2 linked regions of the Homo sapiens genome follow. The protein of the gene in region 1 purifies or fractionates together with the protein of each later gene. This does not show direct contact. Each region holds a gene or a part of one and is shown in the gene's direction. Other genes may lie near its edges.

The links.
Region 2: the proteins of DUSP13B (region 1) and PDIA6 purify together in Homo sapiens (affinity purification with mass spectrometry, with the first as the bait; 2 studies listed by BioGRID). This does not show direct contact.

The regions. Positions count from the first base shown.
Region 1 is NC_000010.11:75,093,901-75,096,516, reverse strand, and holds the end of DUSP13B (dual specificity protein phosphatase 13B), read left to right. Parts: intron 1-721; coding exon 722-942; intron 943-1,638; coding exon 1,639-1,841; 3' UTR 1,842-2,081; downstream 2,082-2,616. UniProt on the Homo sapiens protein: Dual specificity phosphatase that dephosphorylates MAPK8/JNK and MAPK14/p38, but not MAPK1/ERK2, in vitro. Exhibits intrinsic phosphatase activity towards both phospho-seryl/threonyl and -tyrosyl residues, with similar specific activities in vitro.
Region 2 is NC_000002.12:10,802,773-10,809,811, reverse strand, and holds part of PDIA6 (protein disulfide-isomerase A6 isoform d precursor), read left to right. Parts: intron 1-7,039. UniProt on the Homo sapiens protein: May function as a chaperone that inhibits aggregation of misfolded proteins. Negatively regulates the unfolded protein response (UPR) through binding to UPR sensors such as ERN1, which in turn inactivates ERN1 signaling.

The DNA.
Region 1 (2,616 bases):
CAGCCTCAACCTCCCAGGCTCAGGTGATTCTCCCACCTCAGCCTCCCAAGTAGCTGGGACTACTGGCATATGCCACCATGCCTGGCTAATTTTTGCATTGTTTGTAGAGATAAGGTTTTGCCATGTTGCCCAGGCTGGTCTCGAACTCCTGAGCTCAATGAATCCTCCCGCCTTAGTCTCCCAAAGTGTTGGGATTATAGGCATAAGCCACAGTGCCTGGCCTGAAAAGGAGTCTATTTTTTGTTGTTGTTGTTGTTTTTTTGAGATGGAGTCTAGCTCTGTTGCCCAGGCTAGAGTGCAGTGGCATAATCTTGGCTCACTGCAACCTCCGCCTCCTGGGTTTAAGTGATTCTCCTGACTCAGTCTTCTGAGTAGCTGGGACTACAGGTGCCCACCACCATGCCTGGCTAATTTTTGTATTTTTAGTAGAGATGGGGTGTCACCATGTTGGCCAGGCTGGTCTCAAACTCCTGACCTCAAGTGATCTGCCCACCTCGGTCTCCCAAAGTGCTGGGATTATAGGCGTGAGCCACCGCACCCAGCCCGAAAAGGAGTCTTAAACTCCAACAGGAGGAGCCCCTTCACCCTGGGCCAATTTGCAGGCTCTTGTCTCTACCCTTGGTGGGTGGTGGGCGGGGGTGTTTGCAAACTTCAACCCAGCCAGAGCTGCCACAGTGAGATCTACCTCCACTCTCCTAACCCCTTGTGCCCTCTCCTCCAGGTACGCAGCCCGGGACAAGAGCAAGCTGATCCAGCTGGGAATCACCCACGTTGTGAATGCCGCTGCAGGCAAGTTCCAGGTGGACACAGGTGCCAAATTCTACCGTGGAATGTCCCTGGAGTACTATGGCATCGAGGCGGACGACAACCCCTTCTTCGACCTCAGTGTCTACTTTCTGCCTGTTGCTCGATACATCCGAGCTGCCCTCAGTGTTCCCCAAGGTGCACTTCTGGATCAGGCATGGTGGAGGGTGGAGGGTGTGCTTTAGGACTCTCCATTATTCCAGTAGCACTGGTGGGTGGGAGTCCAGAGAGACAAACCCTTTCAGTAACCCTCCCACTCCATAGGGAAAATAGCTACTACCATTCAGTGAGTGTCCCCTTCAGGGACACCCTGGAGGCTAGCAATTGCAGACATAACTAAGATGCAGTGTGGTCATCAGCATCACCACATCCCTCCATAAGAGGCCAGGCACTGGACAGAAGGTATAGGACCCAGTGAAGCTCTTGAGCGGGTTCCTCTAAGATGAGGCCTTGGCATAGAGCTGCAGGGGCAGTCGAGAGGGCAGAACTCGGGGGAAAGGGAGGTAGATGGACACCCCCTATAATCTGATGCAAACCCAGTGACCTCAGGAATTCAGTAAACCCCCTTCCCCTGGCCCAGAGTTGCAAAGGATGCCTGAGGAAGCACCTGGACTGGAAGAAGGAAATCCCGGCTGCTAACCTAAACCCTGCCTCTAACTTGCTATGTGACTTTGAGCCAGCCTCCTCTCTTTGGGCTTCAGTTGCCCCATTTGACAGAGTAGACAGTGTCAGTATTCCAGGATACTGTAGAGGATGGCCATGGGTGTCTCTTCTTCCCAAAGGGGTGGGTGGTTCAAGGGCAGGTAGCTGATGCTAAGTTGGTTCTCCCTACAGGCCGCGTGCTGGTACACTGTGCCATGGGGGTAAGCCGCTCTGCCACACTTGTCCTGGCCTTCCTCATGATCTGTGAGAACATGACGCTGGTAGAGGCCATCCAGACGGTGCAGGCCCACCGCAATATCTGCCCTAACTCAGGCTTCCTCCGGCAGCTCCAGGTTCTGGACAACCGACTGGGGCGGGAGACGGGGCGGTTCTGATCTGGCAGGCAGCCAGGATCCCTGACCCTTGGCCCAACCCCACCAGCCTGGCCCTGGGAACAGCAGGCTCTGCTGTTTCTAGTGACCCTGAGATGTAAACAGCAAGTGGGGGCTGAGGCAGAGGCAGGGATAGCTGGGTGGTGACCTCTTAGCGGGTGGATTTCCCTGACCCAATTCAGAGATTCTTTATGCAAAAGTGAGTTCAGTCCATCTCTATAATAAAATATTCATCGTCATAAAGACAGGTGATCTTTTGGTGGTCTGTGGGGCAAGGACTTACTCTCGGGATGGTCACAAGGTTCCAGATGGCTTGCCAACTCTGATTCAGTGGGATGGCAGCCTCGGGGAGGAGTACAGGTGGGAATAATTCGTGATATCTGCCTTGGGTGCAGGAGGAAGGTTTGGGGGTACAAGTGTGAGGATTAGATAACCTCGTCCTCATCTTGTCCTCCTCATCTTGTCCTCCTCATACCCTCACCCAATAGTTAGGTTGTCTGATAAAGACCCAAGTTCAATGCATCACCATTATCTCCATGCCCATCCTACCCAAGGCTAAATATCAAAATTCACTGTCCACTAGTAGCATCTCTTGAAACCAGTCAGTCTTTTCACTAGCACTCTGCTTTCAAACGGACTGCTTAAAATTAGACTCCTAACAAATTAAAGCATTAAACAAGAGGATGATGGGGTTGGGAAGGAGACATACCAGAAATACTAGGCAAAGGACAGTTATATGATGGAACAAAATAGCTCTGAGTTTCTTAGTTCTTATCTT
Region 2 (7,039 bases), on another chromosome or scaffold:
TCTTTTGCTTTTCCATTTTTGAAAATTTCACAATAGGCTCAGTGTACTGAGCAAGTACCAAATTCATATCGATTTTACAAAAAAGATAAAGTTCTTTAAAAGTAGTACATCTCTGTAGAAGATTATCCTATTTTTTGGGTTTTTTTTTTTTTTTTTTTTTTTTTTTGAGACCGGGTCTTGCTCTGCCTCCCAGGCTCAAGCAATCCTCCCACATCAGCCTCTGGAGTAGCTGCGGCTACAGATGCACCCTACCATACCGAGCTAATTTTTGCATTTTTGTATTTCATATTTTTTCTCTACAAGAGATGGAGTTTTGCCATGTTGCCCAGGCTGGTCTCAAACTCCTGGCTCAGGTTATCCACCCGCCTCATCCTCCCAAAGTTCTGGGATTACAGGCCTAAGCCACCACACCCAGCCTTAGTCTTACTTTCAAGCTTATTCAGAGTTAGGACTGTCAGTGCTTATGTTCTTGATTTACTTGGCTTTGTTAAACGTGTCAAACTCTACTTCACCTTTTCTGCAGCAGTGAAAAGATTAATGAGCAGTGCCATCCAATAGAAATATAATGCAAACATATATGTAATTTTAAATTTTCTAGTAGCTACATTTAAAATGGCCAAAAGAAACAGGTGAAATTAATATATTTACTGAGTATATCTAAGATCATTTAAACATGTGTTTTCAAAATGAAAAATAATATTGAGGCCGGGCACGGTGGCTCACGCCTGTAATCCTCGCACTTTGGGAGGCCAAGGTGGGCGGATCACCTGAGGTCAGGAGTTCAAGACCAGCCTGGCCAACATGGTGAAACCCCATCTCTACTAAAATACAAAAATTAGCCGGGCATGATGGCTGATGCCTGTAATCCTGAGACGGGAGAATCGCTTGAACCCAGGAGACAGTGGTTGCAGTGAGCCAAGATTGCACCACTGCACTCCAGCCTGGGCAGCTGAGTGAGACGCCGTCTCAAAAAAAAAGAAAAATAATGAGATTACATTTTTCCCTCCATTAAGTCTTCAGAATTCAGTGTGTTTTTACCAGCATATCTTAGTTTGGGGTAGCCACATGTAGCTAGTGGCTATCATGCTGGATAACCTGTTACTGAGAGAGCAGCCCCGCTTTGGTTAGCCTGGCATCCATTCACAGGCATCCTTTCCCACCTCTTGAAATGGAAAAGGAGATCATCCTATCAAAGGCTACTCCATCACTGACTGGGTTCCCGCTCCTCTTCTGACTCTGGGCATTTTATTCAGATACTCCCTGTATTTTATCTTTGGCCTCTCCCACTGCATATGTCTTCCTCTCCTAGATCACTCCCATCTTCAAAGAAAACCTTCCTTGTTTTCTACATTTGCCTGCCTCTGGTCTCTATAATGAAACCTGCTTAAAGAGTTACCTATATTCTCTCCAACCTTCTGCAGACTGCATGCCTGTTATTTTCACTCCACCACAACTGCCAGGGCTCCCAGTGACTTCTTTGTCACTAAATCCAATCAGTAGATGGTTTTAAGTCTTTGCTACTTTATCTCCCAGTAGCATTTGTTAGTGTGGCCCCTTCCACATGTATCTTGGTTTATGTGACACCACTCTGGATAATTCTCCCAATCCACCTTCCACATGGCAACTGGAATACTCCTTCTAGAAAGCATAAATCTATTCTTTCCTCTGAATGATAACCCTTTAGTGGCTTCACTATTAGTAAAATTAACAGTTTTATAAGTTCTTACAGTATTGGCTATATCTGTGATTCAAATGCAGTGTAAATCTTGAATACCATAATTGTTCATTCATACCTATAGCGTACAGAACCACTTTATCTTGAGCACTAAAAAGACAGCATGGTGTAATAGGAAAAGCTTGGAAATGGAGAGCTGCCCTGCCCCTTATATGTATGACCATAGATGGGCCATTTGGTCTAGACCTTTATTTACAAAATGGGGATAAGTCCTACTTTCTAGTTAGTAATGCTGTCAAAAATTAAGTGATCTAACATTTGATAGTGATTTGAAAAATTGAACGTGTTGTATGATGGAGGATTTAGCAGTAAAACAATGAACAATGGTGTACACTCCTTCCAGAAAAAGTGTACCATTTAGTTATTCCAAAAAGGTCCATTTGAAATCTTCCAAATTCTAATTGTGAAGCAAGCATGTGAAAATGTAACTAAGATGGCATGTACACACACTACTTGAGAACACAGGCCAGTCTCACTTATAATTTGCTATATCAACAAATTAAAAGGAAGAAATGATATGATCAACTTCAGAGATGCTGAAAAGACAGGAATAGATAGAAATTTCGTTAACATTGTAAGTACATTTTGGCCTGGCGTGGTCACTCATACCTGTAATCCCAGCACTTTGGGAGGCAGAGGCAGGAGGATCACTTGAGACCAGCCTGGGCAACACAGGGAGACCCTGTCTCTACAAAAAATTTAAAAGTTAGCCAGGGATGCACCTGTAGTCCCAGCTACTGGGGGTGCTGAGGTGGGAGGATCACTTGAGCCCAGGAGGTCAGGGCTGCTGCAGGGAGCTGTGTTTGCACCATTGCACTCCAGTCTGGGTGACAGATCAAGACCCTCTCTCAAAAAAAATTAAAAAGTGTATTTATTTCAATCCAAAAGCCAGCATGATGCAAATAGGAAAACCTTGTTGAAGTCAAGAATAGTCTGAGGATATTCCATTATTTACCTTGTTCTAGAGGTAATCAGCAAATTTTTGTATATTGTCATGTGTTGCTTAACATTAGAGACGTGATCTGAATTATGATCAACTTCAGAGATGCTGAAAAGACAGGAATAGAAATTTCTTTAATTGCTATTGTATCAGACGATTTCTTCATTGTGAATAACATCAGTGTGTACTTAATACAAACCTAGATGGCATAACTTACTAAAAACCTAGGCTACATGGTATAGCTTATTTCTCTTAGGTTATAAATCTGTTCGGCATGTTACTGTACTGAATATTGTATGCAGTTGTAACACAATGGCAAGCATTTGTGTATCTAAACATAGAAAGGGTGCAGTAAAAATATGATATAAAAGATTAAAATAGTACACCTGTACAGGACATTTACCGTGAATGCAGCTTGCATGACTGGGGGTTGCTCTAAAAATTTTATTTCTTGGATAATAGATTAACCTTAATTTACTGTAACGTTTTTCTTTCTTTCTTTCTTTCTGTCTTTATTTTTTAGGAGATGTGGTTTTGCTATTCTGTGTTGGCCAGCCTGGTTTTGAACTGCTGGCCTCAAGCAGTCCTCCCACTTTGGCCTCCAAAGTGTTGGGATTATAGGTGTGAGCCATGGCATCTGGTCAACATTTTACTTTCTAAACTTAATTTTTTTTTTTTAACTTTTTGGCTCTTGTAAAAACACTTACCTTAAAACGCATTATACAAAACAGCAGTACAAAAATATTTTCTCTCTTTTTTTTTTTTTTTTGAGACAAGGTCTTGCCCTATCAGGCTGGAGTGAGTGGTGCATCACAGCCCACTGCACCCGTAGCCTCGACCTCCCTGGGCTCAGTGATCCTCCCACCTCAGCCTCTCGAGTAGCTAGGACTATAGGCATGCACCACCATGCCTGGCTAATTTTTGTACTTTTTTTAGAGAGGGGGTCTCACTATGTTGCCCAGGCTGGTCTTGAATTCCTGAGCTCAAGCGATCTGCCTGCCTTGGCCTCCCAAAGTGCTGGGATTACAAGCATGACCCATAGCACCTGGCCAGTATTTTCTTTTATATCCGTATTCTGTAAGGTTTTTTTCGTTTTTTTTTTTTTTTTTTTAATTATACTTTAAGTTTTAGGGTACATGTGCCATGCTGGTGCACTGCACCCACTAACTCCTCATCTAGCATTAGGTATATCTCCCGATGCTATCCCTCCCCCCTCCCCCCACCCCACAACAGTCCCCAGAGTGTGATATTCCCCTTCCTGTGTCCATGTGATCTCATTGTTCAATTCCCACCTATGAGTGAGAATATGCGGTGTTTGGTTTTTTGTTCTTGCAATAGTTTACTGAGAATGATGATTTCCAATTTCATCCATGTCCCTACAAAGGACATGAACTCATCATTTTTTATGGCTGCATAGTATTCCATGCTGTATATGTGCCACATTTTCTTAATCCAGTCTATCATTGTTGGACATTTGGGTTGGTTCCAAGTCTTTGCTATTGTGAATAATGCCGCAATAAACATACATGTGCATGTGTCTTTATAGCAGCATGATTTATAGTCCTTTGGGTATATACCCAGTAATGGGATGGTTGGGTCAAATGGTATTTCCAGTTCTAGATCCCTGAGGAATCGCCACACTGACTTCCACAATGGTTGAACTAGTTTACAGTCCCACCAACAGTGTAAAAGTGTTCCTATTTCTCCACATCCTCTCCAGCACCTGTTGTTTCCTGACTTTTTAATGATTGCCATTCTAACTGGTGTGAGATGGTATCTCATTGTGGTTTTGATTTGCATTTCTCTGATGGCCAGTGATGATGAGCATTTTTTCATGTGTTTTTTGGCTGCATAAATGTCTTCTTTTGAGAAGTGTCTGTTCATGTCCTTCGCCCACTTTTTGATGGGGTTGTTTGTTTTTTTCTTGTAAATTTGTCTGAGTTCATTGTAGATTCTGGATATTAGCCCTTTGTCAGATGAGTAGGTTGCGAAAATTTTCTCCCATTTTGTAGGTTGCCTGTTCACTCTGATGGTAGTTTCTTTTGCTGTGCAGAAGCTCTTTAGTTTAATTAGATCCATTTGTCAATTTTGTCTTTTGTTGCCATTGCTTTTGGATACAAAATCAATGTACAAAAATCACAAGCATTCTTATACACCAACAACAGACAGAGAGCCAAATCATGAGTGAACTCCCATTCACAATTGCTTCAAAGAGAATAAAATACCTAGGAATCCAACTTACAAGGGATGTGAAGGACCTCTTCAAGGAGAACTACAAACCACTGCTCAAGGAAATAAAAGAGGATACAAACAAATGGAAGAACATTCCATGCTCATGGGTAGGAAGAATCAATATCGTGAAAATGGCCATACTGCCCAAGGTAATTTACAGATTCAATGCCATCCCCATAAAGCTACCAATGACTTTCTTCACAGAATTGGAAAAAACTACTTTAAAGTTCATATGGAACCAAAAAAGAGCCCGCATCGCCAAAGCAATCCTAAGCCAAAAGAACAAAGCTGGAGGCATCACACTACCTGACTTCAAACTATACTACAAGGCTACAGTAACCAAAACAGCATGGTACTGGTACCAAAACAGAGATATAGATCAATGGAACAGAACAGAGCCCTCAGAAATAACGCTGCCTGTCTACAACTATCTGATCTTTGACAAACCTGAGAAAAACAAGCAATGGGGAAAGGAATCCCTATTTAATAAATGGTGCTGGGAAAACTGCCTAGCCATATGTAGAAAGCTGAAACTGGATCCCTTCCTTACACCTTATACAAAAATCAATTCAAGATGGATTAAAGACTTAAACGTTAGACCTAAAACCATAAAAACCCTAGAAGAAAACGTAGGTTTTTTTCGTTTTTAAAGTTTGTTTTAGTTTTTTAAACTTTTTTGTCAAAAACTAGGACACAGGGCCGGGCACGGTGGCTCACGCCTGTAATCCCAGCACTTTGGGAGGCCGAGGCGGGCGGATCACAAGGTCAGGAGATCGAGACCATCCTGGCTAACACAGTGAAACCCCATCTCTACTAAAAATACAAAAAATTAGCCAGGCGTGGTGGCAGGCGCCTGTAGTCCCGGTTACTCAGGAGGTTGAGGCAGGAGAATGGCGTGAACCCGGGTGGCAGAGCTTGCAGTGAGCCGAGATAGCGCCAATGCACTCCAGCCTGGGTGACAGAGCAAGACTCTGTCTCAAAAAAAAAAAAAAACACAAAAACTAGGACACAAACACGCACATTAGCCTAGGTCTACTCAGGGTCAGAGTTATCAAGGCATCACAAGGTGATAGGATTTTTTAAGCTCCATTATAATCCACAGGACCACCCTCATATATGTGTTCTCTCCTTGACCCTGTGGATGTGACTGTATATGTAAATTTAAAAGGTGAAATTTTGATAGTAATGCCATTTCAGAGAACTTTTGGGTTCTTAAGATACTAGTAAGTTCAGAATTTGTTTTCCTAAATTATTGTTGTAAATTGCATGTAAGTTTCCAGAGTTGCTAATGAAAATGCTCTTGATCCACAATGTGGCAGAACTGTGTGGTCAGCAATACAGTCGACACTGTATCCTGTCTTTATAAGGTTGTTCACACGAACAGTGTTTCTGATAATGTGTTATGGATAGTATTAAGAGAAATAAAACTATTTATAAAAATAAACATTGGCTGGGCGCCATGGCTCATGCCTGTAATCCCAGCACTTTGGGAGGCCGAGGCAGGCGGATCACCTGAGGTCAGGAGTTCGAGACCAGCCTGACCAACATGGAGAAACCCTGTCTCTATTAAAAATACAAAATTAGCCGGGCGTGATGGCACATGCCTGTAATCCCAGCTACTTGGGAGGCTGAAGCAGGAGAATTGCTTGAACCTGGGAGGCGGAGGTTGTGGTGAGCCAAGATCATGCCATTGCACTCCAGCCTGGGCAACAAGAGCGAAACTCCGTCTCAAAATATAAATAAATAAATTACCATTGCCCTTGAAAGAGTCACAATCTAGTGGAAGAGACAATAATTATTTTCCCTTCAAAAATATATTTGAATAAAGATAATGTGCTAATAATTGCAACTGAATAACATGAGGAATGATTACTACGTGATTGCCCAGGGTTACACAGGCAGAAGTGACCTCCCAATTTTTCAGCGTCCATGCCATAAAATGACAGTAGTACTGCCTCATGGAGCGGTTGTAAAGAACAAAGACGTTGATACATGAAAGCCACTAAGAATAATGCTTCAGCCTTTTTCCAGTGCAGCCCAAGGAGTGGGAGTGGGGACCGTCCGTTCCTTTCTTGCTCAGCGTTGCAGCAATGGGAGTGAAATTCCAGGGGCTCCAACTGCAGCAGGAAGGG